Linked DNA regions of Homo sapiens: region 2 is linked to region 1. The links come from fine-mapping of genetic effects on gene expression. Tissue or cell type: whole blood. Region 1 holds a variant in brackets; the other region holds the start of a gene. All regions are shown on one strand. Distances are from middle to middle.

Region 1 (2,757 bases):
TGGAGTGTTATTTTGGACATTCTTAAATATGAATTCTCCAAAGGCATTTAGCCTTGACTTAATATTAAATCCTAAGGATTTTATGTAAGGTTTTTTTGCAACCTATTTAATTTTTTTTAAATGCCTAACTTCTGAGGTGCATAAGCCCGTGGTTTGTGTACTGGAACTAAAGCGGAACTCACTGATTCATATTGGATCCCCAGGTATACCTTCTGCTGGTAGCATATGGCTGGAAAAGGCCGTTTGCCTCACACATTGTAACCTGCCTTGGCTAGAAAATGCTTTTAATGTCTCAACTCTCTCTTTTCTGTGTCATGTTTTGGTAGGAAATCTTTAAGATTGGCGGACGGAACAGGTATTTTAGTGAGACACTTCTGAGTACTTGCTTTTTCCTTTGACTTCTAACCAACTAAAAGAGAAGGAGGTCTTCATGTTGATATTTTGCTTGGTTTTATTTTACTGATTTTAAAAGGTATATAGAAAAATGTAGGCCTTTAAAAAGAAACAGCATGTAGTTTTTTATTTTAATATGTTCCATAGAGTGGATAGGCAGACAGGTACTATTGTAATGTATTCTGTATTTAATAATTTAATATACTCTAGAAAGTAGACCTCATGCATTCTTTTAGCATGATTTTCTTTTAAACTGCTTTTCATTTTAAGGGCACCCGTGGCGGAAGCTGGTTTTGCAAGGACTGTGTAAGCTGTATGCGTTCTAGCTGTATGCGTTCTGTAGTCTTTTCTTAGGTGGGTAACATTTTCAATAACGCGCGCACAGCACACAGGGGTGCCCTGAGCCGAAGGAGCAAAAAAAGCCACCGCTCGTTTCTATAATCCAGCTTTGCTTTTCACAGGCGTGGGATCCAGGATGGTGTCCTCTGTGAGGACTTGAACTCTGGGGCTTTAATTCCACTGTTTAATTTTCAGGTACCACAGCAGCAAAGCACAGAGTGTGACCTTTTTCATGTCTGAGCTGATTCTGTTTGCTCCACGTGCCTGCTTCTTGCTACTGTTCATTTAGTAATGGGATCACCTCACCATGCCATGCTCTGGGCTCTCCCTCTCTGTCCATTTCTGTTTTGCTTTCCTGGCTAAACCCATCTACCATTCTTAACACTGGTAGCTCCTGTCCCATTCCAAGACTCACTCTCTCAGACCTTCCCATCTCCCTGGCTTTCCATGCTCCTCTCCCTCCACCTCCTGGCTTCAACTGGGTGAGGGCCGTATTCCTGCCACTCTGCTCCGCCTCAGCCTTGAGAACTCCACGTGGGCTGGGTGGGAAGGTGCTGACGATTTTCACACTGTGTTTACC[A/ACTCCATCACCT]CTCCATCACCTCTCAACCTTTGCTTCGACAGGTCTTCACTCACGATTTATTCCTCCAGGTCTTTGATTGGAGAGAGTAACTTTTTAATTCTGTTGTTTTGCAGTTTGGCTCTGTAGGAGTGAGTGGCGATTCAAAGATGCCGGCGTCCCGCAGTGTGCGGTTCGTGCCCTTAACCACCCGCTTCTTTGTTTCCCGCCCCTCTGCTTTCGCAGGAGCTCTTGTGCTTGAGTTCAGTGTTAGTGGTAGCGTGGCTCACTCCACTTGGAGGTGGCGGCCGTCTGACCGTGTGTTACTGCTTTGCCGACGGGGCCTCCCGGCCCTGATGCGTGTACACTCTGCGGGCTGCACCGGGTGGCTCTGGTTGGGGGCGAAGCTGTGTTGACTGGGAGAGCGTTGGAAATTGAGACATGGAGAGATGACGGGAGTGCGTTTCTCTGGGTTTGATCTCCATCCTGTTTTCTCCCAGACACACCACACCTACCTTGGGGGAATGCCGTTGCCTGTTCCACCCCTTTGTTCACTTCGCGTTAACTGCTGTGGTAACTTTTTCAGGATCTGTGTGAAGAATGGTAATGACGTAGTTGAAAGGAAAATGTACTGTTGTGTGTTTCATTTGTGTGATTTCGTACCAAAAAAATGTGTTTGAACTATATTGTATGTAATTTGGAAGTCGTGTTAATAAAACCCTGCAGTTTCCACTCTGGTTCCGTAGCCTTCATTTTGTCTGGGCGCTCAGGTCGGGCCACAGCTCATCTTACCTGTGTGTCCGAGACGGTGCTTCCGCACCTCTGTAAGGGGCCGGGGTCGGGGGCTGCCCTCACGCTCCCCAGATTGGCCGCTGGGTTGCAGCCCGCGGCTTTCACGCAGCTCTCTCATTAGTGGGCCACGAAGGTCAAGGGCAGCCGCCGCCTCCTTGCCTGCATTCTGGGCGCTGCATGACTCCGAACTGACCAGGCAGACGGCATCAAAGTATGCTCCTTTTGGTTGGGGGTGGGGGAGTTAGTCTTTTTAATTTTTTAAAGCATTATAGATAATTTTTACAAGTTTTCTTCAGAAGAGACTTGTATTCCAGCATGGCAATAAGAGACTGAAGGTGGGGAAGCTCAGTCTCCAGTGACGCCGTTCTTCCAAGGTGGCGTGTTCTTGCCGTGTGCAGGCCTCGCTGGAGGTTGGGATCACAGTGCATATGCCATCATGTATATTTTCCATTTCATGTATCCCACGTGTTTTTCATGTTGTTAGAAATTGCTCATAATTTATGGTCTATTTTGAAAATGAAGTCTTTAAAAAGAAGGCAGCTCTGTTTCCAGAAACTACTGTCCAAAACATTCAAGAAGATAACCCCCATCACACCCCCTGCTGTGCCCTGTGATGGGCCGGCTTCCCCTCTCACCCGGATGCTGGTGTTGGTGTCTGTGCTGGGGTTCGGGGGTCGCTGGTGACC
Region 2 (2,757 bases), 140 kb before region 1:
TGAGCCACCGCGCCCGGCCAGCATTTTATTATACGTACCGTTTTATCATCTCTTCACCCATCCACCAATGCATCTCCTGTATGGACGTCTTGATTGTTAACTCACGGCACTGGACCTCCAGTTTCATGCCTCTCCACATTGCAGGGTCCTCTACGTTGTTGTATCAGTCACCTTTCTAAAATACAAATCTTACCATGTAAATTGTTTCTAAAATCTTTCAATAGACCCCATAGACTCAGAAAAACGTCCCAAAGTCCGGAATCCTGGCCCCTGCCTACCTTTCCAGTTTCATTGCTGGGTCAGAACGCCTCACCTAAGCCCCACATTGACCGATATGGAATCAATGTTTACAGCCGGTGTGTACTTAATCAACCCCCTTCCCCGACTGCGACCACTCAGATGCGCCTTCCCGGGCCCCACACCCCAAAACCCCTGAGCCCTTTCGTCCACAGCTGTCTGACCACCCAGCACCCTTTCCTTTATGTCAAGTATGAGGATTTCGTTTCTTAACCTTTCTCACTGCTCAAAATGCAAACTCAGACATGAGTGCCGGGCGCTATCCGTCCTGCTCACGTCTTGTTCTCAGGGCCGCAAGGCGCAGGGGCAGTAAGGGCCGAGAGCCCATCAGGGTCCGGCGCTGCCCGCTGCCCAGCCGGGCGCGGAGAAGGGGACGGGGGTCCGGGGTCGCGGGTCCGGAGGGTCTCGGGTTGTAGGAAGTGAGGGCTCGCGGGCGCCGCACGAGTGCGCGTGCACGTTAGCCCGGCGCGCGCGGCACTCATCTCACCTCGCGGAAGCACCTGCCGGAGCTGTGTGCACCCTTTCCTGCCCTCAACACAAGCCGTCGGCGTTCACTACTGTAGCTCATTCAGACCCCACTCTCCAACCTACTGTCCAGGCACAGAAACGACAGTTAAGGTTCCCCCGGACCGTACGCTGGACCTTGCCTCCCCGGCTCCTAACGGGAGACGGGCTGCCGTAAAGCTTCGCTTTGCCGACTGCTGCAAAGCGCCTTACGACTGAACCCGGAATCGACCTATGGCCAGCAGTCGTCCCCGCCCTGCTTCAAACATTTGGGTTTCAGGAGCCGGGCGGAGGTGACTGCCGCGTGTTTGCGTTGCACGCCCACCGCCCGAAACACGGCGGCGGCCTCAGGGCTGCTGCGGCCTCGGCGGGGGCAGGCCCCGGCGCCCGCCCGCCTCCCGGCCTCCATCATCCCAGGGTGCACCGCGGCGGGCGCGGGCGCGCGGCCATGTTGCGGTAGTTTGTTGTTTTCTTCCTGCGGAGGCGAAGGGCCAGCTGTGGACCGCGAAGCGCCCGGCTTCGCCTCTGCCTCCTGCAGCCCCCTCCCTTCTCTGTCCTCCGTCACCCGTACCCGGGCCCGGACCAGGCACGTCGGCCCACCAGCTGGCTTGGTGGGGGAGGCTGAAGGCCGGGCCCCGCGAGTGCCATGGCGGCCGCCCTGGGAGCGAGCGGAGGAGCAGGCGCCGGAGGTACGTGAGGCAGCCGGACTCTGGGGGCCAGGACCGCGCCGCGGTGGGCGGGGGTGTAGGCCGGGGGGCCTCCCCGCTTAGGAGAGGACGAGGCTCTCCCCGGCTCCGACTCTCTTTGTGTTCGGCCTATTCCGTTTTCTCCCTCGCCTTCCCTCGCTATTGTCATTCTCCCTTTCTCGCTCCTCCTCTCCGCTGTGCAGATCGTACTTACCTGTGAACTTCTGTGTGTCCTCTACTTTGCAAGGCTGCCTAAGTGTCAGGCCCATCTCTGGCGTTGGCGGGCATTAAGTGCCGAAGCCGGCCTGGTGTCCTATGGGTAGGAGAGCGCCCCCCCCACCCCCCGAGACAGTGTCACTTAGGGAGAGCGGGGCAGGTCGCTGTAGGGTGGGTGTTTAAGATTGTGGGGCCATCCTGACAGATTTAGATTGATTTGAAGCCCATTACAAAAACATAACGAAAAGATTCACCTGTGTGAAGGAATGTGCGACAGTAGGCCAGTTTGGAAAGTGAGATTTCTTGAGAAAGTCTCAATAAATCCCTGTTTTAAATTAACTTATTTGTTGTCTAATAACCTGTTAGTGTTTTATGTGCGTCTTCCAAAAGTGAAAACGTGACACAAAAGGTTTAGATACTGAGTCAGTTCCTTTGGATAGTTTTTCTTGTTTGCAAGCATAAACAGTATTGATGAAACACCTATCTCTAAAAAATTGTAGGTAAATTACTTTCAGGTAAAATTACATATCACTGGGGGTTTTAAAAACGTGGAGAGATACTTGAAAGTGACTTTTTAAGTGATTATTTTGAAAACTTTGAAAAGATGGTAAAATATGGATAACAAAAGCATTTGGGATTAGTTCTTACCATTGAAACGTTGAAAAGCCAGTCTAGTGTATACTCGAGAAGTATTTTTTAGTAAATGCTAGCAGATGGTTACGTTGTTATCATCCTGTTTAGGAATTTTGGCCCAACTGTCAAAACGTTTGCCTGACAAAATGGAAAAACAAAAAAGACTAAGTGTAGGAATGTCGCTTCTGGCAATTTGGTTTGCTATATGCCACTTTTCTTTCAGTTTAAATACATGATGTTTGCGTGTTACATCTGAGACTAATTAAAATTTTAAAATGTATAGTTCACCTATCTTTCTGGGGGTCAGAATTACTTGTTTTATAGCATTCCCAGTGTAACCTGGGAACTCTTGGGTGAACACTCTTTTCATTAGAAAGACTAAGGTGTTATTTGTATTTTTTCTCTTTTCTTTCAGTAGTGT

What was found. PIP is the estimated chance that this variant, and not a neighbour inherited with it, causes the effect.
Region 2: RBM33 starts here. The variant in region 1 is fine-mapped to the expression of RBM33 in whole blood (INTERVAL, PIP above 0.99).

What each region holds. Positions count from the first base shown.
Region 1 is chr7:155,779,470-155,782,226 of GRCh38, forward strand. RBM33 (RNA binding motif protein 33) reads left to right here. Exons shown (of 18, transcript NM_053043.3): 18 at 1-2,011. Among named protein-coding and RNA genes, the nearest start is that of SHH, 32 kb to the right of the region's middle. RefSeq lists a silencer at 1,986-2,280 and an enhancer at 2,533-2,757. The variant A/ACTCCATCACCT (reference allele first, on the strand shown) is at 1,313.
Region 2 is chr7:155,643,430-155,646,186 of GRCh38, forward strand. RBM33 (RNA binding motif protein 33) reads left to right here and starts at 1,232. Exons shown (of 18, transcript NM_053043.3): 1 at 1,232-1,490. The coding sequence starts at 1,448. RBM33-DT (RBM33 divergent transcript) reads right to left here and starts at 977. Exons shown (of 3, transcript NR_126344.1): 1 at 785-977; 2 at 39-175. RefSeq lists an enhancer at 171-1,125 and a silencer at 1,050-1,559.